4 linked regions of the Homo sapiens genome follow. The protein of the gene in region 4 purifies or fractionates together with the protein of the main gene of each other region. This does not show direct contact. Each region holds a gene or a part of one and is shown on either strand. Other genes may lie near its edges. The genes, in order: VTI1A, NAPG, STX18 and BET1.

What was found.
Region 1: the proteins of BET1 (region 4) and VTI1A purify together in Homo sapiens (affinity purification with mass spectrometry; 2 studies listed by BioGRID and IntAct, with this or other methods). This does not show direct contact.
Region 2: the proteins of BET1 (region 4) and NAPG purify together in Homo sapiens (affinity purification with mass spectrometry; 2 studies listed by BioGRID and IntAct, with this or other methods). This does not show direct contact.
Region 3: the proteins of BET1 (region 4) and STX18 purify together in Homo sapiens (affinity purification with mass spectrometry; 4 studies listed by BioGRID and IntAct, with this or other methods). This does not show direct contact.

Annotation. Positions count from the first base shown.
Region 1 is NC_000010.11:112,443,335-112,450,256, reverse strand, and holds the start of VTI1A (vesicle transport through interaction with t-SNAREs homolog 1A), read right to left. Parts: upstream 3,043-6,922; 5' UTR 2,884-3,042; coding exon 2,790-2,883; exon of another isoform or gene 2,685-2,789; intron 2,478-2,684; exon of another isoform or gene 2,474-2,477; intron 1,876-2,473; exon of another isoform or gene 1,768-1,875; intron 1,376-1,767; exon of another isoform or gene 1-1,375. Other genes in the region: palmitoyltransferase ZDHHC6, read left to right, coding at 4,821-5,087, 6,651-6,742. UniProt on the Homo sapiens protein: V-SNARE that mediates vesicle transport pathways through interactions with t-SNAREs on the target membrane. These interactions are proposed to mediate aspects of the specificity of vesicle trafficking and to promote fusion of the lipid bilayers.
Region 2 is NC_000018.10:10,550,027-10,553,264, reverse strand, and holds the end of NAPG (gamma-soluble NSF attachment protein), read right to left. Parts: intron 3,189-3,238; coding exon 3,045-3,188; 3' UTR 501-3,044; downstream 1-500. UniProt on the Homo sapiens protein: Required for vesicular transport between the endoplasmic reticulum and the Golgi apparatus.
Region 3 is NC_000004.12:4,532,009-4,539,060, forward strand, and holds part of STX18 (syntaxin-18), read right to left. Parts: intron 1-7,052. UniProt on the Homo sapiens protein: Syntaxin that may be involved in targeting and fusion of Golgi-derived retrograde transport vesicles with the ER.
Region 4 is NC_000007.14:94,001,350-94,008,653, reverse strand, and holds the start of BET1 (BET1 homolog), read left to right. Parts: upstream 1-4,298; 5' UTR 4,299-4,437; coding exon 4,438-4,456; intron 4,457-7,304. UniProt on the Homo sapiens protein: Required for vesicular transport from the ER to the Golgi complex. Functions as a SNARE involved in the docking process of ER-derived vesicles with the cis-Golgi membrane.

The sequences.
Region 1 (6,922 bases), on a different chromosome or scaffold from region 4:
TAAAAAGGGGCAAGCACAAGTCATTATTAAGAGGGCAACTACTGCGTTTTTAAGAATTATGATCAGGCCAGGTGCGGTGGCTCACGCCTGTAATCCCAGCACTTTGGGAGGCCCAAGTGGGTGGATTGCGTGAGCCCAGGAGTTTGAGACAAGCCTGGGCAACATGGCAAAACCCCATCTCTACAAAAAAAAAAAATCAGCCGGGCACAGTGGCTTGAGTAGTCCCAGCTACTCGGGAGGCTGAGGTGGGAGTAGACTTGAGCCGTGAGGGAGAGGTTGCAATGAGCTGAGATTGCGCCATTACACTCCAACGTGGGCGATACAGCAAGACCCCATCTCATAAAGAAAAAAGAATTATGATTATTCAATAATACAAGTCAGTAAGCATTCTTCCAGAGCCAGCAATGCAGTCTCCTTTCAATTGTAATGAAGCTCCTGTGTTTGGGCCTTATATAATACTACAGCTAAGGAAAGACATAGTTTTTTTTTAATTTATTTATTTATTGAGACAGTTTCGCTCTTGTCGCCCAGGCTGGAGTGCAATGGCGCAATCTCAGCTCATCGCAACCTCCACCTCCCAGGTTCAAGCGATTCTCCTGCCTCAGCCTCCTGAGCAGCTGGAGTTACAGGCATGTGCCACCACGCCCAGCTAGTTTTGTATTTTTAGTAGAGACAGGGTTTCTCCATGTTGGCCAGGCTGGTCTCAAACTCCCGACCTCAGGTGATCCGTCTGCCTCGGCCTCCCAAAGTTTTGGGATTATAGGCATGAGCCACCGGGCTCTGCCCAGTTTTATTTTTAAGGTACTGAATTCAAAAAGTTTCCTTCTATGTGTTAAGAATTGTCACATTAAAATATAAAGGCAAGAAAAAAATTGTAACACGATCTGTTTTCTTGGAAATTTACAACTTTGCATCCAAGGATGATTTTGTTACCTTGTAAAACAGCTTCCCAATACAAAAACTAATAACCCAAAGAAATGTTTCTACTGCTAAAACAATTACAATTAAAAATGAGTAAAACTCTAACTGGAACCACAAGTCCTGATACTCTGAGGCTCTGGGACTCAATTCAAAGGAAGTAGTCTCCAACAATAACAAAAATCAAGACGATCTCCGGCAGTGGAGAAAAGCAGAACTGAAGAGAAGAGGCGAGGTGATGTATCATGAAGAGATGAGGCCATCAGCCACTTTCGACACAAAAATCTCTGAGGCAGCAGAGCTTGGTGGTATATACTACCTTGGTTCTCTCCTCTTGTTCCCTTACTTGGACTCATAAACCTCTTTAAGACATCATCCATCTCCTCCAGAACTAACTGGGGACTTCAGGAGATGAGTGGGGTATAAGTTCAGAGATCCTGGCTTCAAGCAAATATCCCTATTAACAGAAAATAGGTGAGGGGAAGAAAAACAAAGAAATAAGGGAAGAAAATTACTTATAAACACATAAGTTTTGGGGGAAGTAGGGAAAGGGAAAGAGGAATGACAACTTAGGTCCGGGAGAAATTATTGCTAGTACCAGGACAAGTGGGCAAGTGAAGTGCCCACCAATCCGCAGATTAATGAGCACATCCACCTTTCTACACTTTATATCCTGGAGCTAGGGTAGGGACAAGTCTAGCAGCCAGATGATGGTTCAATTTCCCTAACAAAACTAAACAAAAATGTAAAACCCTTTTCTGTAACTAACTACTCTAATCTGTAGAGAAAGATAGTCCCCGAATCAACATTGTACAAACCATAGTTACAAAAGATCATATTTATATTCACCTGCTCATTCACTTATTTTCCTGAGCCCCTAATAAGTAAACGCCAAGGAAATCAGACACAGCTCCCACCTTCACATAGTTGACAGTCTAGCATAGAAAATAAGATGTGCTAAAACACAAAAGGAAACACAAAAACAAAAACATTTCCAGATGGGAGATGTGAAATTTTTAAGTGTGAAAAATTATCTTGTACCAAGTTTTACATGAAACTGGGTTATACAATAAATCCCCAAGAAGGATGAGAAACAAGAAATGGGGGTGGGGGGTATGAAAAATACTAATGCTAATACAGCAACTAACAACACCAAAAGTGACTTTAAATATGTTATATAAATTTAATCTACCTAACAACCCCATGAGAGAAGTACAATTTTCCCCCATTTACTAAGAAGGAAAGTTGAAAGAGACTAAGAAGTCTGTTTAAGAGGCACAACTTTTATTTTATTTATTTATTTGAGACGGAGTTTCACTCTTGTTGCCTAGGCTGGAGTGCAATGGCGAGATCTTGGCTCACTGCAACCTCCGCCTCCCGGGTTAAGAGGCACAACTTCTAAGTGACAGAGGTAGGATTTGAATCTAGGCACCCTGATTCTTACCTCTATTTTGCCGCATATAATTATAACAATATTATTACTAACACAACAACGCCGCTGTAGATTGTAGATCCATAGGCTACATACTTTCATTCATTTTCTTTGAATACTCACATGTCTATAATTTACAAATGAAAACATTAAGACTCTTAAGACGTTAAGAAACGTTTCCAGGTTATGCAAGTTACAAGAAGGTAGAGCCGGGATTCGAACTCAGATGGCTCAGATTCCGAAGGCTCTTTTCACGGCACCCCACACCCGAACTTGACTCCTTACCCTCAACCAAGCCAAGCCGTATCCCTCCTGGGAACAGCCGGCACCACCCACTCCAGCCTCGCGCCTCATAGACACACTTACTCGGGCGGCGTTCCACCGCCCGCACCCTCCCAGCTCTCCCCAGCACCCTCGTCCAGCCGGGCAAGGCTCTCACCAGGCGGGAGTCGTGGGACCCTCGCAATCTTGCTGGTGATCTCTGCAGTGAGCACCGCGAAGTCCTGCTCGTAACCTTCGAAGTCGGACGACATGGCGGCTCCGGAACGAGTAGCCCAGGCCAAAGCCTAGGTCAGGGAAAGGGCCTCGAGGGGCAGCGAGGGGCCCCGCGGCTTAGGAACCCCGGAAGGTGCCCCCGAGAGCAGAACGGAGAACCGGGGACAGCTCTCAACCCAGCCGCTTCCTGGTTGTTCGTCGCAATCTCGGTTCTCCGGAAATTGGGTTGCGTGCGTGCTTTATTTTCCGCTCCGACTTTAAGATAAGTAAGTTCGCAAAGGAAAAGCGCCCCAATTAGTGCCTCCCCCCAGAAAAGCGTATGAAAATATGCAAGTTCTGAGGGATCATTAGAAGCGTTTTTTCCCCCCTTCGTGTTCTGGGAATCGGCTCCGGATCCACACGCTACAAGGCACAGCAGCTTGCTTCCGGAGGGAGGTTTGAGGCGGCGAACCTCCGGAAGTGACAGTAACAGAGACTGCGCAGGGGGCCTGAGCGGGAGAGTCCTGGCGAGGGCGCTGGCCGAGAGGTGCTCGGCTTGTAGCAGGTCCCGCACTCCAGCCTCTCGCTGCCAGGGTTTGCTCTCTGCTTGTCCTGGGCTGAGGTGTCCATGACGGAGTCATCCAAGGAGGAAAAAATCTGTTCCGGGTGAGCCCAGGCCGCCCCGGATATGCGATGGCTGAGGAGCAGACACCAGGGACCACACTGAGGTGGGAGTCAAGGCAGGGAATATAAGCACGATTTTGGTGGTCTTTGTCCCACCAGAGTGGGAGCAGGCTCTCCTGAATGTTGAGACCAACCTGGCTTACCAGGATATTTCTTCCTTGGGTGAGGATTTATTTCTAAGCCCTCTGCTCCATGACTCGGGCGGGAAACTGAGGCACAAGTCAACAGCGTCTGCTGCGTGGTAGTCTGTATTATCCATGTAGCTCAGATCCTCTTCCAGATCTTCAGATCCAGTCCAGGCAGAGATGCCCTTCCACAAATCTCTCCGGAGCTCGCCGCCCTGCCTTCCATTTCCCTCGCTCCTGGAGGCACTTCCTCTTCTTTCTTCCCTCGAATCTTCTAATTCAGGTTCTTCTCATATACTCTTCTGGTCATAATTTCACACACACCACACACACTCTCGCTCTATCTCCTCCCTTCCTTTCCTTGCATGCTCTCTTTGCTTTCACTGTCGCTCCTTTACTTTTGGGCCAAATTGACTGTTCTCTTGATGTTTGGGTGGCGGGGTGGAGGAGACTGCAGGCAAATGGCATAGACCATGTCTGACTCATACTTGGCTTAATTCAAGACTTCATAAGAGGCAGCTTAGAATTTCATAAAGGGAGGTCGTTGACTTGCCTTCTATTCTGGTTCACCTGTTACTTGTGACCTTGGTCTAATCACTCAGCCTCTCTAAGACAATTTCTGTTCTATGAAGAAGGAAACTGAATTAGATCAACTCTAAGGTCCTAAAATTCTTTGTCTTCTCAAACTATTCACTAAGCGTTGGATGGTGACAGTCCCCTGACAAGCGGAGAAGGAATAAAAAAAACTATTTTGGAATCGTGTATCCAGTTTGCATGCCATTCAAACTTGTACCATATTTTGGATAAGTCAAAAGTAGTTCTTTTTGACATTTGACAAGATATGCATCCCAAAGTGTAGTGCACTTGTGAGATGCTGTTGTGTAGGTGTTTATTGTAGTTAACAAGTATGGTATGCAATAAAGGTTTTGTTTTGTTTTGTTTTAACTGAACTTTCCCATTTTGTTTTCTTTAGGTTGGGTTTCAGACCAAGACACTGGATTCTCCTAGTTAAGATAAAGAGCTTTGGGTGCCTGACAGTGAAAATGGTGTAATCTGCGTTAACAGTTCACAGCTTGAAGGCATGACAATTAAAGAACACACATGGACTTGTGGCACATGGAAATGTGCGCACAGAAAAAGGAAATCTATAATTCTTTTAAAGTAGGAAGGCATTCTTCCTTGCCAAAATGGGTACATTCTGTTCGGTTATCAAGTTTGAAAATCTACAAGAATTAAAGAGACTGTGTCACTGGGGTCCCATCATAGCCCTTGGTGTTATAGCAATATGTTCTACCATGGCCATGATTGACTCTGTGTTGTGGTATTGGCCCTTACATACAACTGGAGGAAGTGTGAATTTCATCATGTTGATAAATTGGACTGTCATGATTCTTTATAATTACTTCAATGCCATGTTTGTCGGTCCGGGCTTTGTCCCTCTGGGGTGGAAACCGGTAAGAAAGATTCTGTAAGACAATGAACTTTAATGATAATCGTATATTTGGTTTTTGCCTTATCTACTAACCAATAATACCAAACACAGCCTACTGTTTGTCCTCACAGAGACTAAGTATATTACTCTAATCACTGATCATTTAGGCTCGGAGACTTTATTTCATATCTGTTTGAACACATTGATCCAAAATAGCATTTTCCAAAGCAATTTTATTGAATATTTGCTCTGCATTAAAAAAAAGATGGAGGTGGGGTGGAGGTGGGATAGGTTCATGGTCAAAAGTTTAGGAAACATCACATGTCATACACAGTGAGGTTTGGCTGTAGTACCTTTTTTCATGTAATACATTAACATCCCTTAGAACTGAGAAAAACGCTTTAGAAACTGCTGGTTTAAATCATAAAGTTTTAAAATCATTGCACTGAAAATATAACATTGGGAAGTATAGTCCAAATCCATTTATAGCTTAAAAACTACTGGGAAATTTATGCTTATGAATGTCCATGTTTCCTGCTAAGGGACCACACCTGATGGCTTGTCAGAAAGGCAGAATCTTGGGCTCCACTTCAGACATACTGAAGCAGAATCTTTATTTTAATAAAGTGCCCAGGTGATGCTTAGGTATATTAAAGTTCGGGAAGCACTGGTGTATATCATGTGCTATGTACTATTCAAAATGCGTACAGAGGAGGGTAAGATGTAATTTGAACTCTGAAAGAGCTTATAACCTAAGCAAGAAACAAACGCACTTGTGCAAATCACTAAACTATAAAGTAGAACGTGATGGGTGCTGTTAAAGTTAGAAGAATTGAGCATTGTTAGTTGGGGACCTGAGGGAGGAGTGGGAATTTCCAAAGGAGATGGGGAAGAGGGCATTTCAGGTTGAAAGAATGGTGGGACCACGTATTCAGAAACAGTAGACAGCCCTGTGTGACTGGGGAAAAGATCATGTAGGGCAGAGACAGCTGAAACAAAGGCAGATTGTGACAGTCTTAAATACATGAGAAATTGTAGACCATAGAAAGTTGTAGGGGTTTTCAGGCAGAGTCTGACACAGTCAGAGGTGTATTATAGGAATATTATTTTGACAATACACGGTTTGTGCTGAAGAAAAACTACAGTAAAGGAAACTAGTTAGGAAGTGATTAAAATGGCCCAAGAAAGGGGTGGTGACGGGTAATGTCAAGGAGGGAGCAGATTTCAGTAGGACTATCAACTCACGATTAACTCCTCACTCTAAAATACCTGCTAAGTTGTCAGCTACCTTTTTCTGAACTCCTGAATCCACTAAGATTTGGGGTAAGTAGAACCAACTAGTGACACTGAATTTAGGTGGAGCACAAGGAAGAAAAATTTAAAAGGACTTCTGGGTAATTGGGAAAGTGATGCTGCTCTTACCAGAAAACTTATTTAAAAATATTTTAGCTCAAATAAGAGGACTGGAAATGCAAGTTAAGATTCTCTCCTTCCCCTATCGCCCATAAAAGAAAATCATACCGTAGGAATCATACTTATATTCAAGTATCCGATGATGCATTTTTGTTTCTGTTTTGCTGCCAAGGAAATTTCTCAGGATACCATGTATCTCCAGTATTGTAAAGTCTGCCAAGCATACAAGGCACCACGTTCACATCACTGCAGAAAGTGTAACAGGTACCTGTCTTTCTTGCTGTTCAGCGAGGACTGATCAACTAATTACTGATGTTTTCATTGTTGCTTATACTACATTAGTGCTACTTCTATTCACTGCAAGGTTACCATATTATAAACAATATTGTCAGAATACTTGTGTCCATAATCGCCATTTTATACTTAAATTATCTAGATAATAAA
Region 2 (3,238 bases), on a different chromosome or scaffold from region 4:
TCTGCATTCTTTCTTACTTCAACTTCTCCTGAATCCAGGTATCAAATTATATTATTAATTTCCATTCCATGAAAGACAGGGATAATATTACATAGTTAGCATCCAATAAATGTCTGATTGTAAGTAAATCTGCTAGTATTTAAGGTGCTAATTATGTAAACAATTTCACATCAGTTCTCTTAGCCTCCTAATCATACATGGTTTTATCTCACTTAACCCAATCAAAGAATTACTCTCTTGGAAGAGGTATTAGTCTTTCATCTCACCAAACAGCAGTATATGTAGTATTACAATAACTGAATGACTGGTATTTTAAGAAGCTCAAACAGTTTAAATTCCCAAAGGTACCTTACTCCCAAAGAGCAGAAAAGACAACTGCAGATAACAAAATACTGTCCTTGTAAAATAATGCTGAAGTCATATAATTAAGAGAATGTGTCCCTGGAAAAAAGAAAATTAAAACAAGCTAAACAAAATAAATAATACAAAGAACAATTATATTTATATAGTTTCAGGTTTTATTTTCATAATTATCTTCCTATAGAAGCAATAATCTGTATTTCCATAACAACACATTTAATATTCTACTCATCAGAGTTGGGAAAAATAGGAATAAAGCAGATTCCATACAGAAATACCGTACTCTGCATATGTACAAATAAATTCAATATATTAAATCTATTTTGTAGCTGGACTTCACTTACAATGTAACAGAACATTGAATATTAGATTCTGAGCATATTCATGCAAACTTCCACTTTGGTGAAAGTGATGACAGTGGAGTTCTGGAAGACAATTTTCCTTGTAAACACCAAGTTTTGCACTTTGGACTATGCTCTCAAGATAGAAACTTACGTGAGTGGAAAAAGAAAATGTATAAATGTGAAACAAATATTCCTTACCACACAGAATAACCCTGACAACAAACAATATCCCCAAGTCCTGGTTATTCAATCCTCACCGTGGGCAGGAAGGGTGAAGGAGGCTGCACCTGGACACAGCCTTTTGTGTGGTTTAAAGCATAGCTGCGCTGCTGCTACAGAATGCACTTCATCATCACCTTTTTTAAAAAAAGTTTTCAGTACATAAGAAGAGTAAAATTAAAAAATTTTTTCCCCCAGACTTTAATGGGTAATATGATCTATCTATACATAAATAGTCTACAGTATCTTTAAAGTATTGCCAAATCTGTTTAAACAGATTACTAATTAGCTCAAATGAGCATTAATGTAAGACTCCAGAAGTTTCCGATTGGATCTAAAGGATACAAGCTGCAATGATGGGATCTTTGAAACACTGCAATGTCCTTAAATGCAAATGTCTACATATAGCTTGTTCATAGTTAATCCCAATATCATTAATAAAAATGAGGTGCTACCTGAAGAACTATGCCAATAAATTAAGGAAGAAAAACATTAAATTTATTAGCATTTTGTATCAGACTTACAATAAAGACTGTATACCAACATCCACGCACCCGAGACCACCTCCCAAAGGAGGATGTTATTCTAAGCTCTCCCGCAGAACTGTGACTAAAATCACTTCTGATACTCCACCTTAGTGTTTTCAGGAAGTCTAGCAAAATTAAGCAACCTATACTCAAATAAGGTATGACTCTAAAAGAGACAGAGACAGGGCATGGATGAGCAGGAATTACTTTGGCAGCGTGTACCTGCAGAACGCACACTGCTGGTGTCTGTAGCCTCTTTCCAATTAACAGATTACGAGATGGGTCTAAGCCACACAACAGGGTGAAAAAGGAATGTTTCGAAAACAGCATTTTAGGAAATAACTATAAAGGATCAATATATTGGCAGTGCGGTGTTTTAAATATTGTCTTTCTAAAACAATTCTTCCCTTTCAGCTAAGTTTTCATAGTATATAGCATTTTCCATGTCAAGTTATGACGGAGTTACAATCAAAATAAAATAAACAATCAAAATAAACTGTTTTGGAGGGAAGAAATATATCTGTATTAGACTGATGGAAACATTACCTCATTCTTACAATGTTAGAAAGATATTCATAGGCTGGGTGAGGTGGCTTATGTCTACAATCCCAGCACTTTGGGAGGCCAAGGCAGGCAGATGGCTTGAGCTTAGGAGTTTGAGAACAGCCTGTGCAACATGGAGCAACTCCATCTCAACAAAAAAAATAAAAAAAAAATTACAAATTAAAAATAAAAACATTAGCCTGGGAGCCGTGATTGTGCCACTGCACTCCAGCCTGGGCAAAAGAGTGAGACCCTTAAAAAAAAAAACAAAAAACAAAACAAACAAACAAACAAACAAAAAGGTATTCATTACCCATTAGCTCCTATTTGGTCAAGAACCAAGTAGATTTGAAGACAGTCACTGTATGTATTTTTTAGATAGAAGAAATACCCACACTTCAGAGAGGACTGAAGATATTTATAGATCACTTCAATATGCTACCTTCAAAATTTTTCAAACTCATAATATATAAGAGCTTCAATGCATCTTTTATTGGGCTAAATAATATTGTAAGGCTCAAAATAACTTCCTGTCCCCATCTCATCTCTGAAAAGACTTAATAATTTAAATGTATCTAACATCATGGGGGATAAATTTACTTTTCAAAACAAAAAAATTTTAAAATGATTTATCAGTAAACATCACCTTTAGCAGCAATTATTAAATGAAACGTAAAAAACAATTCACTAACAGTAACTTACAAGTGTCCAAGAGAGAATACCTATGCTTATTACCCCTTTTGTTTAGAACATAATTTATGTATAATTTGGCTTGCAAATTTTTTAATCAATGTATTAAAACATGACAGTACATTTTCTGTTAATTCCTGCTGGTGTCTTAGAAAAGCTCTTATGGAAAGAAAAAGATATGCTTCACAGGTAATGGATACAATGAGTGATTTGGGAAGATGGTAACTAAAAACTAGTCTTTATTAGGATCCAAAATCATGACTGTAATGAAGTACGGATATCCCTAATCTATTCCCAAGTCCTTGAAATGGCATGTCAGGATTTTACCTTTGTTTCCCTTTTCTTTTCAGCAAGCAAAATACTAGCATAGTCCTCCTGAGTATTCATCTTCCTCTTCATCAGCAGCCGTGGCAGTGACACCATCAGGCTTGGCCTGTGGTGTTGCAGGTGATTTCTTCTTGATTCCCCCTCCTGGAACCACCAAACTCAGGCCCAGCTTAGCATACTGTCAACAACAGAACATGTTCTTAAAAGCTGGATAACTAGAATCCTAAC
Region 3 (7,052 bases), on a different chromosome or scaffold from region 4:
ACTATTTTTAATAGCTATGCAGCCAAATAAACTGGTGGTAAGAGCAATACATACTGATATTTAAAAATTTCCAAAATACATTGTTTTCTACAATACTGTTATGTAACCCCTCTCTACTCCCCCAAGGAAGAGGGGAGGGCATATGGAGAGGGATTACATAACCGTATTGTAGAAGAATCTTGATTTTATTTAACAGAAAAAATGTTTGGAAAGTTAAACACCAGAATTTTAACTATGGCTATTTCCTGACACTGGTACTAAATGTGAACTATTTTCTTCTTTATTCTGTTTAATGAGCACTTACTAATTTTATAATCAGATTTTAAAATAGTCAACTTCAAAAATGTGCCCTGCTAATAAAATTCCATTATAAAATTATATCACCACTTTTAAATCAAATACATTTGTGAAAACACACCAAAAATGCTAACTTTGAAAACAACAACAACAACAACAAACCAAAACAAAAAAAAAACCTCACTCTTTCAGAGACTCAGGGAAAATATCACAAGGTAATGGGCAGTTATCACTGCAAAAAGTATTTAAAAATACATCCTGGGACTTTCAGATAAAGAGTACTGAGTCATGCAACCATCTCATTGAAAAGGTCCTTATGGATTATCTAGTCAAAACCTCTCATTAAAAAAATCAGAAGAGTGACACCCAGAGAGGTTAGGTGAGTTCTCCAAGATCACATAGTAAGCTATTGGCAAAGGCCAAAAGTATTTACAATTCGAAACGTACACTTTTTAATTCCTTTCTCAATTCCTCTGAGTTAAGATATGCTGTAGCCTGTTACTTCTGCTAAGACTATAGAATTCACTGCTGGAGAAAATGTCCAAGAAAAGGCAAGTGTTCATTTCACCAGAGTTTTCTTATCATTTGACTACAAATTAGATAGAAATGTTACAATATTGTGAAATGGAAGTGTCTCTCTCTTGGTTAAATACAGCTTACAAATTCCATGGTAAGAACATTTTGACAAACAGACATATGTTAGATGGTGATAAGTAGAAGCTGGCAAACTTTAGTATTCATAGTCTTTGAGGATCTGAAAGTCTGTAACAAAGAAAAAAGTATTGCCGGGTTTAAAATTTCAACTGTGCTGCAAGCTTTCCATATCTGAGTTATTGGGTTCATTCAATATATCATACTTTCATTCCTCTGGTTTATTCACTTTCTTTTAGAGGAGTTTTGAAGTTGCCTCTTTTTAAGTCAATATTAAATGTAATACGCTTTAAACATAAAATGGTTTTCATACCATAAGCCATAATTAACATGTGTAGACTTCACTGATACTTTACCCACCAGAGGGAGTCCATGTGGATTTCCATGTAGTAAGAGACGTCAAACATCAAGTTTACATGAATTCAACAACCACATTATTCATAATACAATCAATATTATAAAATCACTCAATAATATATTTCTATCCCCTGAAAAAGAGAAAAATTAAATGAGATCGGGCACATAAAGTCCTTAACCGAGTTCCTGACCTATAGCAGAAGCTCAAAAATGACTGAGTTTCCAAAATCTGTATTCTTCTGCACATTAGTTACAGTGCTTACAACAAATTAACTGGTATTCTGACTTACACACAAGTTGACGTGAGCTTGGCTGATATCTGCCCTAACAGATGGCTCTAGCCTCAATATGTAGAAAAATCTGGTTCTTGGGCCTCCAAAATGAAGCCAGCCCCTGATGGGAAGAATTCACTAAAAACGTCACACTGAGAAGACGTGTTTCTGCAGCCCTACCCTAGTAGGTGAGACACATAATAATTGGTCAACTGCCAACTCAAAAGTGAGGAAAGAGGGAACTCTTTGACACACTCCAGATTCTTCATGGAATGCAGGAGAAAATGAATCAACTATCCCTGAGAATCATGCTTCTACAACATGTGATATAATCATTAACCCCAAGATGAGTTTCATTCAAGAATAAAGAAAGCAGAACTGAGAATAACAGGAGAGAACCTGGCATCCACACGGGCCATCCTAAGTTTCTACCTCCTTGTACTTCTCGCCACCATAAGTCCCAGCCTAGTGATGGCCGTATTGCTGAGACAGGTCTCAATCTCCATGCAACTGGCTGGGCATAGGTACATAGGCACTGGGTATCTATTTTGTACTCAACTGTCTCCAAGGTCTAAATGTGGCAAAGCTGAAGGACCCCATTGAGTTCCTCAATCCAGGTTTATCAGTAAGCACTGCTGCTGGGGAGTTATCCACCACATGCTGTCTTAATAAAACTCCAGTGTCCATGGGCTCCTTGGATCTATTCTCTACTATTTAGAATTAAGAAGAAGGCATGAATAACTGGCACTCAACTCTAACCCTGAAAACTCTGTTATTGTAATCTTCTACCATTTAACTTTTCAACCAGAAAGCTGGAAATTATTCTACCTCCTCCTCTTTCTATTTCCACTAATTAGTTACTAAGTTTTACTAAGTTTGTTGAGCCTACCTACTAAATACTAAATACCTACTTCATCTATTTTTCTCCCATCCAACCCTACTGTCACCGGCTCCTCAGTTTCACCTGAATTACTGCAACAGCATCCTGCTTAGCTCTCCATGTCAGTCTTGTTACATTCCAAACCCATCATCAACACTGCGGATTAGTTTAAAATACAAACATGATCCTTTCGTGCCTCTGCCGCATAGCCCAGAGCATAAAGTACAAACTCCTCAGCACTGCTAACAACGCTCTCATCTAAGAGTTGGCAAACTTTTTCTCTAAAGGGTCATACAGTAAATATTTTAAGTTTTGCAGGCCTCTGCAGGCTATCGCTCTGCTGCTACAGCATGAAAGCATTCTTGGCCTATATTTAAACAAATGAAAATGACATATTCCAATAAAACTTTATTTACACAACTAGGCAGTGGGCCGGATTTGGCCTGTGGGCCAGTTTGTGGACCCCTGCTCTAACCTACTTCAGTACAACCTCACCCCCTGACACTCTGACCCTCACCCGGGCCTCCTCCAGAAAAGGGCTCTAGTCACACCAGTCTTGCCTCTGGCCCCAAACTGCCCTACTGTTGTGTGCCACTGCCTTTGCTCACACCCATCCCTTCTACCTACGTCTGGTGGAATGGTTTTTCTCCTTAAAAGCCAAGTTTGATGATCACTTTGAGGTTTCCACTGATTCTCCCCTAAAGAGATTTAGGTATCCTTTATCTATCTTTTCAAAGAACAGGTTAATATGCCTCATAGTTTTTTTATGGCCCCACAATGCCTGACACACCAGATGTTCAGTGTTTATTGGATGATGGTATAAATCAATTATTGAATAAATACATTTCAAAACTTACAGTCCTCCTAAGTCTTGGGCAAAATTCAGAAGTGTAATCCACACAAAGGACTCACAATCTCATGAAAACTCTGCAGTGCTGAGCTCTCCTTATAGTACACACTCAGTTATTGCAATCCATAAAAACACAGCATCATGAAGCTAAAACAGGCCCTGGAGAGCATTAAAGCAGTGGTTTTTAAACTGTGTGTCTCTGGGCCCTCTGGTTGGTTCCTAGGGGTTCCTCAAGGAGAGGGGGAAGGTAACAGAAGGGTAGTAGGCTGGCGAATGAACCTCTCTCCCCAAACCTCTCACTCCAGCTTTTACCAAAGCTGCTCCTTATTTCATTAGCTAAAAGGTTCCTGCCATATTTAAAAAGAAATCTATATGATTCAGCACACTCATGCTCTGTTCACAGCTTGCATTCTAAACCTCCATTGTTTCCCAATCCTACTTCTGTATGGTTTGGCCCTATCTCCTGTCCTTCCTGCCTCTCATGGACTCACTGTACCTGTTGCATGATACTGCTTCTTTGAATCATGCTCCCTCAACTGAAATCCCCTAACTATGATTATACTCAACCCTTAGGTAAAATTTATAATCCAGGTGGTCCCAGCTCAACCTTTGGGTCCCAACACTGGCACAGAAAGTCAACACTGCCTCTGAAAAGGAAATCAAGGAGGACCTGGGGAATCAATGCTAAAAAAGTTACAGTTGTTACTCATACCTGAGTTGTTGTGCTACCTGTGTCTGCTTTTCCACTAGAATGTAAATGTGTTGAGGGAGGAACGGAATCTTAGTAATAAAAGCTACTATTTACTGAATGTTTACTCTTAATACCGGACTAAGTATAAATGTGCATCATGTAATATTCAAGAATCATGTGAGTATCACAGAGCTTTAGAACTGCAATGAGCCTTGGACAGAGATCACCTAGCCCCAAAACTGAGAGAGACAGTAGATTAACAGTTATTCATTAATTCAAGAAGTATTTATTAAGCACCTGCATCCCCACACTGTTCTAGAAGCTACAGATTCAGTGCTAACAACACAAAGTTCTTCATTTTCAGAAAACATATATTCGAGTAGACAAACAACAAATAAATGGATATATGATCTGCTAGGGGAAGGGACAGAAAAAGGAGGCCACTTTACGCAGGGCATTCAAGGAAGGCCTCACGGAGGCAACATTTAACCAGAGACCTGAGGAACTGAGAGATCAAGCCATATGGAATCTAGGAGAAAAGTGTTCCAGGTAGAGGGATGCAAAGGTTCTAAGCGGGAAATGTGCCTGATGCATGTGAGAAAATGAAAGAGGCCAGAATAGCTGGAGTAGAGTGAGCAAAAGGAGGGGGAGAGGAGGTGAGGCCAGAGAGGGAGCAGGGCCAGATCATCTGGCTTTGGGCCACTCCAAGAACTCTGAATTTCAGCCAAAGATTCAAGATAATCAATTCCTAAAAATAAGTAAATAAAAAACGAAGTTTAGCTTCCACAAAAGAATGTATTATCAAGAACAAAATCTCATCTGCATGCCTAATCTGAAAATAGAGTTCCCAGCAATTCAGGATCATTATTACCTTATTTAGAATCAAAGTGTCCTTATTCTACAAGAAATCTCTGCAGTTATCTAATCGAAGCTTTCAGTTTTACTAATGTGGAAACTGAGGCCCAGAGAAATCACATGAGCAGCCCACTTACTGGCAGACCTGCGGCTAGAACATGGGTTCCTGCTTTCCTGTGCGGTGCTCTTCAGTAGCCCCTGCTGCCTCTGCACAGCAGTTCGGTGCTTACGGGTTTCTTGCTTACCTGTGTGGTAGCCCCCCCTGGCTCCTGTAACCTTTATAAGTCAGTAAGAGAATAGAAGAGCTGCCACTATGAGGCATCTCTAGGCCTATCCTCACCCCAGAACCTGTCATTATAAACTCCTGCATTTTCTAGTTTCTCATTCCCCACAGAGTTGAAGACAGCCAGGCAGGCAAGGTGAAGGCACATCAGGCACTGTCCCAGGCACTGTGAGGGATGTTTTTGTTGCTTTTGCTTGCCCAACATTCCTTACTCCCTATTCCCAGACAGGGCACTGCCTTTTCCATGATTCTGGTGGGGGCTACATAGCATCCAAGCCACCTATTAACCACAGATTGAGGTGGACATAGACCTGACCAATTAAAGAAACATTCCTCTGGCTATAATGACTACTGTAAGAGAGAGCAGAGGATCAAGCAGAACCAACTAGATTTCCTTCCTGGGCTTTATGGATAAGAGCTAGAGAAAGAAGCTCTATCCCTGAATTTTCCAGTTATATGAGCTAAGGTATTCCCACTTTGTTCAGGTTAATTTACATTAGGTTACTATTACTTGCAAACAAAAGAACTCGGACTCATGTAGGCACCTGCATACCTTTTCTTATTTCACCTAACAACTTTATAAGGTTGCTATTACTCACTCTATTTTAGCCATAAGGTAACTGAAATTAAGTGGCTTCCCCAAGTTCATATAACAGATAAGACACATTCAAATCCAAGTCTTTCTGCCCCAGGTTCCATTCAGTATGCAGTATTCAGAATTAACTCAAGAAGAAGAAACTCACTGCCATTCAGAAACCAAACAAATTCTGGTTTAAAAATTACAGGAGAATGTAGTGGGCAGAGGGAGAGCAGCATTAAACCAGGTCAAAGGACCTGGCTTCTACTTATGGCTCTGTGCTATGACCTCAACTGCTACGACTTTGGGCAAGTAATTTCATTTATTTGGGTGTTAGTTTTCTTATCTATTAACAAAATGAACACAAGGTCCTTTTGAGTGAAAAAAAAAAAAACCACAAACAAACAAACATGGGTCTGCTTTAAGCATACAGATTCTACTGTTACTATATGTCAAGTAGATTTCAACTTGAATGTCAAGCCTAATAACAGGTAACGGCTCCTGGGGTACAATGTTGCAAAGGATTCTGAGCTATAGGGATCCACTAAGAAATTAGCACTGGCTTCCATGATCACAAGGAAGAAAAGAAAGTAAAAGCTGCATACCTGCCACACATCTGCCATCACTGAAAGAGTTTCACCTTGGCAAAGAAATGTTACCATCTTTTACGAATGCAGACAGTACTTCTGCACCACCGCTGATTCATCAGTACCTGCTCAGGATTTTCACTCATTCCTCACGCACTTAACTAAATTAAGGAATGAAAGTGCAAGAAAACTAAGTGGTTTGGAAAATACAGCTTGGTGCCACTAAAGAAAATATGTCTAAATGGCCTACATGAGGAGGGGGGAGGTAGTTTGGGGGAACAATAATAATCAGTCTGTTTTTTTAAAATACATACATATAGACTATGTGAGTAGGGTAACTCAGAAGCTACCCTACTTAGCTTGTGAGTTAAGTAGGGTATTATCACGTCCACTTTATAGAAATGGAAAACGAGAGTCAGACTTGCCCAAGTTCACCCATTTCTAAGTAGCAGAAGCGAGATTTGAACCCAAGGCCCAGGTCTCTTTCCAATCCCATCATCCTCACTAGTCCCACACTTCAAATGAGTTAACTAATCAAATTCCCATTGCAGAGTGACATATTCATTATTATTTGGAGTTGTTCGAATAATATAAGTTCCTCCCCCAAATAATCTGAAAAGTCGTTACTCTCCATTTGTAATTTAATGGGTAGACATGCATTTGAGTATATATAAATTTAGTAAAATTGAGCATAAAAGTTAAATGTTTAAAAGAATGATGCAGAAGCAATCAGCCTGTTGTTGGAAGGTAGG
Region 4 (7,304 bases):
CTCTTGGGGCAGTACCTGTATACTCTACTCTCTTGCTTCCCTGTGAATTTCACTGCTCAATTTAAATGTTTCATTTTAATTCTATCTGTGGATATATATGTCCTCTGTATTCACTCATTCCCTCCTTTTTCTCTACCAATTATGGCCCTATTTCCTTTGAAAATTTCTTTCTGAGGACCAGGGCCAGGTTCAGGGGCCTGCAACCTTTGCAGTTGCATAAGGTTCCTTAATCAGAAGGCCCCCAAACTTGGCTTAATGCTCTGTGGTCACTGTCTTGAAATTCTTAATAATTTTACCTTTGGCCTTAAGTTTTGTATATAAAGTCTTATGGAACAAGAGATAGTGCCCACGATTGCAGGAGATATGTACAACATGCATTTTCATTGTTCTTTGCCACTTCATTTGAATATTACATTTGCAGTGACCCAGGAACACAGAATGCCAGTGGACCCATGACGCATGGGAGTTCAGAAACACTCAAAAAGAGTACAAAAGGTGTGTTAAGTTTGTGTCAGAATAAGTATGGACACTGACAGCCCCAAAAGGCCACGTGCTCTGCTTGAACCAGAACTTCTTCCACAGAAAGAAGAAAATGACCAAGGAACTCTATCACATACTTTTTTATCTTACATTGTTGTGTTAGCCAATTGTATTAAAAATGATGGCATAAAAGGAAAAGAATAGATAAGGCAACCCCTTGCTCTCTTTCTTTTAAGTCCCTCCTAACTCATCAGTAGGCTGAAGGTAGAATGTTGGTAGAGTATGTGCCTGTCAAGACATGAAATAAAATCTGTTGACTTAGTTTTGATGCAGTGTTTTGACTGCTCTGCCATGGTAAGAATGAAATACAGATTCATGTGTGAGGTATCTATTTAGGCCATTCTTGCATTTTTATAAAGACGTACCTGAGACTGGGTAATTTATAAAGAAAAGAGGTTTAATTGACACATGTTTCTGCAGGCAGTACAGGAAGCATAGTGCCAGCATCTGCTCAGCTTCTGGTAATGCCTCAAGGAGCTCTTACTCATAGCAGAAGGTGAAGCGGGAGAGGGCAGGTTACTTGGTGAGAGTGGGACCCAGAGAGACAGGAGGTGGTGCCACATACTTTTAGACATCAGATCTCGTGTGAACTCACTCAAGGGGATGGTGCTAAGTTATTCATGTGGGATCTGCCTCCATGATCCAAACATTTCCCACCAGGACTTACTTCCAACACTGGGGATTACATTTCAACATGATGTTTAGTTGGGACAAATATCCAAACCATATCAAAGTACAAAATACCAAATGTGTAATTTTAGTGATTTCACGAGTAGCGTGCTCTTATGTTTGCATTTAAAACTGTCATTGCACAATATAAAGATCAAGGGTAAAATTAATGCTAATAATTTATTTTTTTCTTTACTCAGAAGAATATTAAATAGCAAATAAAAACACCATGACAAGTTGGTGTGGGGAGGGGAGGAACGATGGTAGGGAGATTACAGAAGAAAACAGAAGAAAGAGAAGTTTTGTATCTTAATACCTTTAACTGAACTTTTCCCCTGTTTTCTGAACTAGAGGCACAACATTTTCATTTTGCCCTGAGCCCCACAAATTATGTGTCTGGCTCTGCTGAGGACTTTAAGGTTGGAATTGTGTGCCTAATTTTTACAAACTATGGCTGAAAAGCTTGCCATCAGTGCTAGTAATATTCCCAAATTATGGAAAAGACAGATCAAATTGGTGACTTTTTGCAAACTCCTTGAAAATATTCTTCGCATTCTTAAAACTTTTAAGTAAAACTCATTCTTTCTCAAACATGAATAACCAAAATAATTTTTAAACACTCTATTTCTTCTTTAATGGCTTTGCTTTATTTTATCACAAGTATTACAACATTATTTTCCTTCTATTGGTCTTGAAAATACGCGGTATTTCTGCTGTCCTATGGGTTACACAGACTTTGATTGGCCAGCATAGTAACTCTAACAGCCATGTGTTTTCTGGGCTGAGTTGGGAACCTGACCATCATTTCAGTCTTCAGGGAAAATGTGCTTTAAATACCAAACAACAAACTTAGAAACAAACTTTGTCCCATAGCTTGTTTGTAAATCAAGAGCTTTTTGTTTCTAGTTTACATTTTGTGACAGTTCAAATATGATACCCGAGATACTGAATTTGCTTCATGATTGAAAAATGTGTTAATGTTTATTGAACCAGTTTTGAGAGCTTGGTATGCTCTTTTCCCTTGGATTGGACTTGAAATTTGGTCAGGAAGAGGTAGGACAAATGGGCAGGCAGGAAGCAGACAGATAGGAGAAAGAAAAGTTCCAATTTTGCACCTCGATTCAGACATTTCCTGCTTTTATTCTTGCTTTTGTAATTACTAGAAGGAATACTTAATATTATTTTAAGTAATTTTTAGTCCTTTATCTCCTAGAGACCTACAAACATTAGATGTTTTCTGTGAGACTATCCTGTGAGAATAGAGAAGAGGTTCTAAATGCTATTCATCTCTGTGAAATTTATTTGCTTTCAATCAGTAAGAAAAGTTAAGGATTTTAATTTAAAAAGGAAAAAGCACAACGAGAAAAGTGAAAATGATTCCCTCTGATCGCTAATGTCAACTATGGTCACATTTAATAATTCTTTTTCTGCACATTGAGTTCATTTTTCCTGCCTCTTCCTTTGAGTGCAAATTTTTTTCAGATGACATTATCCTAATTTGATACTAGCAACGTTAGCTAAAAACAATAATTGGATTTTTTAGGTAACAACTTCAATATGAACTAGCTTTGCCTTACTTCAGTTATATTCTTAGTACATTATATATGTTTTCCTTTTAACTACATTTCATTCTTATGTCTTCCTACCATGTAAAGGAAGCAGTATATTTTATGTAATCTAAATGATTAGTTCTAGTAAATATTACCATATTTTCAAAAATAACGATTTCTACATTTCCATCAGCAAGCCTTCTGTAAGGCAATTTTTAAACGTTTTAATTATAGAACATGCATTTTTTTAACCAAAGGACTGTCACAGATTTTAAGTTATAAAGGGATACCTAGCTATCATTTCTTTTATTGAATCTCCATCTTTTATTTGTAATAATTGTCCCTGATATTATGCTTATTTAATTTCATTGCTTTTAGAAAATGGCGGTTTTATTTTAATGATTTTTTTCTATCAAAACACTATTGGATAAAGCCTCCTTCCCAGGTTAATAACTCTTATTAAAAATTGTTTTCATGTGTTTTTTACAAAAGCAACTTAACGCAGAGACTTATGCCAGTATTATAGTCAATGTTAATAATGTCCTGGGAAACTATGAGGAAACGCTAAATGATCAAAGATCACATATTCGGAAATCTCTAGTGTGGAGACGATTCCACTGCCATATATACAGCAGCAACAACAAAACCGCAGACACCCAGTGAATTTTGATCACCTACTGTGTATCAGGTTTTTTTGTTTTCCCTTCAAAAACCACGATTTCATCGTATTCTCACGATAAATCCTCTGAGATAAAATGAAATTCTAGGATTAACCTCGATACCAGTAACACCTCCAACTCGCCAACAAGTTTTAAACCCCTAATTGGCACACTGCCTTGTGTAAGCAGTATTTCAATAAGCTTTGTGTAAGTTAAAAAAAAAAAAGTGGGAGAGCGTTTAGGGGTCCTTTGGTCCCCATAACAACTAAAAGTCTTGGTTCTTTCTAGAAGTACAACAGATGCAGTAACAGGGAACTAACTATTCAGTGCCTCTGACCAGATCCCGCAGCCTTTCCTAGTCTGCTCTCATCTGAGCAGGAGTCCTACTCAAAGGAACCTGGTTTTCTTTCCTTTACTGGATACTACAAGGCACAAATCGGTTACTTCTGTGGGTGTCGGATTACTTGTTTGTAAACTGAGAAACCTGGACAAAGTTTTCTCTAACTTTCCCTGAATCGTCTCTGGAGGTGAGAGGGAGTTCGAGGCTAAATCAGGAAAGATACCCCAACCATCCTCTTGTGGGTGGGGAGGAGCAGATCTGCTGGGTTAAACTTGGTGGTCAACAAACTGAAAGCAGCGACCCGCGGGCTGCGAGCGGAACAGCGGGAACGTTGGATCAGAGACCCAGAATCAGAGCCGCAGTCGAAGCCGCCCCCTTTTCCGGACGCCCCGTCCGCTCCTGGAACCGGGTTCACATCACGCCCTCAGCAACACGTTATGCGTTGGTGAACTACATTTCCCAGAATGCCTTTCAACCTTCTTCCCAGGGCTCCAATGAGCGCCGTGGTGACGCCATCATCCGGCGCGGTGTTTAGACTCCACTGATGTCGTGGCGCTTTAGGGGAAGAAGTTGGTGTTTCGCTGGGCCCTGGTACTGAAGACGCGGTCCGGGTCGCCCCTAGCTGTTTCCTACTCACCCAAAGCCCCGCACCCGCCTTTTCTCTCTCTCCTCTGGCAGGATGAGGCGTGCAGGCCTGGGTAAGAAGAGGGCTGAGGTTCGAAGTTCGGGGCCCTAGAACCGGGAGCGCTGGGGCGCGGGAGGAAATCGAACCTGTCTTATGTTCCTGGCATTTGGTCCAAAAAACAGGATGTCTAGAGGGGATCTTTGGGGTCCATGTCGAGTGGAAACACACCATTTGTCCCAGATCTTTGGAATTTCCTTAAGTTTGAGTCAGATTCAAGTTTGGATGGTAGGCTAGAGAAAGTAGTGGACTAGGGGTGGGTGTGTACAGGTGGCATCTCAGTGGTCGAGTGTTTTAGTGTTATTGACTGAGCGTGGTTATGGACGCTGCTATGTTTTCCAAAGCCCGACTCCGGTTTCTGTTTCCCTACTGGCCCTGGATCTTAGTTTCTTCAGAAGCGGAATTTGAAGAGTGGGTGGTTGCACCCAAAGCACGCTAGTAATGGTCGTTAATCTGGTAACAGTGAGTTACAAAGGTAAATGTATGTGTCATTATTGTTAAAGGTCCTGGAACTGGAACTTCTGGGTCAAAGGCGATTTCTTAATCTGAACCTTGTGCCACGGTTAAGGCAGTAGAACGTGGTTAAGGTTTGGCGACTTAACATTTGATCTTTACCTTTGGGGTTAGGAAACTGGCTCATCAGCAAGAATAAGTTAGACACAAGGAATTTTAATGGACCCTTATAGTAACGCACAGCTACTAGAACGGCATTTTCTGGTTCTGAAGCTTTCTCTTAGGACACGATTTTTTTTTTAAAGAAGACCCCGCTAAATTAGAGTGCAGTATACTTCAGAAAATAAATGAAACATTTGAAAAAAGATATTACCTTTCTCAGTCATTATAAGATTGAAAAAAGAAAAAAAAAATCCCCAAAGTGTCAGATATTTAAAGTCAGTGAAAGTTGCCAATAACCGTAGACTTGTTTATTGATCAATAAATTGTAGTATGAGAAAGTTTTTTGTTTTTTTAATGAAGTTTTTATGAATACTTAGATCATAGAAAATGGGGCCAGGTAAATTGAAGAGAAAAAAAAAAGAAATAATTTTGAGCAAGTTTAGCTTTATATGTCTAAATGTTTTTCTTGTTCATCATCCTTAATACCAAAAAAGATTTATTGTGTGCTTGAGTAAGCTCTAGGTATACAGTTGTTTGTTGCCCTGTTTGTGATCCCCAAAGCTTCCAGTCTAGGTGGGGAGTAGGAATATGTGCAAAGATAAATTGTAGTACAAAGTGTCGCTATACATCCAAATACCAGATAAGTTCTACATATAAGGGATGGTCTCAGAGATTTCAGAGATAGATCACTGTGTACTTTGTGGGGAAGATCTTTGTGTATTTGGTGGAGACATAGGAATTTGAAGTAGACCTTGAATAATGGAGAGTGGGGGAAGTGAGTTCCAGATAGGAGGAACTCAAAAGAAGTAAGGGATTATGATTAAGCCAGTTTGGGTGAAGTAGGGGATTCGGGATCACACTGTGGAGATCTTTGCATGCGAGGCCAAAGAGTTTGGATTTCATCAGTAGGCCCCTAGGCCCTTTTGAGTATTTTCCTGCTGCAGTGTGCCATGTTAAATTGCAGGAAAGTGACTTGAGTAATGGTTCTCAGCCCTGACTGTACATTAGAATCCCTTGGGAAGTTTTTAAAGTATTGTTACCTGGACCTCAGCTCAGCCAGTAAAATTAGAATTTCTCCAATTTAGAGCCCACTACCTTCTCCTTTTTTCCTTTTTTTTTCTTTCTTTTTTTTTTTTTTTTAAAAAAAAGCTCTTCTGTGATTGAGAGGAGAAGTAATTACCTAGGTAACTACTATTGCTATAATTTACATTGGTGTGAAGTGACAAAGGCTTTTGTTACACATTTTTTCTTTTCTTTTTTTTTAAAGTATGAATGCATATTGACCTGAAATTTTAAATTTGGGATCATAGTGAATCTGATACATATCCATAGGCAGAAGCTGCCACACTTCACATGAATCTCTAAATGGTTTTGTTAGCTTACTGATAGAACCTATCCAAAAAAGTAGCGTTTATCTAAATAAACAAAGGCTGAGGATGATCTTCAGTACTCACTAGCTTTTTTACAACTTTTCATAGCAGTACACCACCAGAAGAGAAGTGGCTTTGTTTGGAATAGCAATTCTAGCATTTTATTTGGTTTTTACTTTTGTCATTGTATTTGGGATGGGTCATAGTTTGAGGGAAGATCAACTCTTTAATAGGAATGTGCATTGATATATTTCTGGACGATAAATACAACAAGAATTTCACTTTGAATAAATGGAACAGCATGGAAGAACTCTAAAATTAAAATTAAGATAGGCAAAAGCAACTAAACAAAGGAAAGAAAAAATAGCAGTTAATTTATAATGAATTCCTTGGTGAAGTTGTCAAATGTTTGAATTCAACCAGTCAGTAATTACTTATTGGGTAAATGTTATATACTCAGAACCTCAGCCACACAAAATAAGAAGACATTCTTTCTTTAAGTATCTTGGCCCTTATTAAACTACAGTTTGCACAGAGTATCATTGGTTAACAGAGTAAGAATGCATTTTTAAATGGTGATTTTAATATTTGACTGAGCGGAAAAATATGCCCACTCCTTGAGTTCTTTTATAATAAAACATGTGGAGAGCTTCATGGATAGTGTGTCATGGATAGTGTGTCAGCAGCAAAATTCAGATAGTACAACTCTCTTCTGTTTGGAAAATACTTCTTCAATATTTTGTTGTGGTTTTTGTGGTGGTGGAGATTGCATAGGTATCTGCTGCATATAAAGTACTCATTAGGTACAGGGAGGATATGGAAGCATGAGATACTGTCTTTGCCTTCAGAGAAGCATATGATTCCATTCTGGACAAAGGT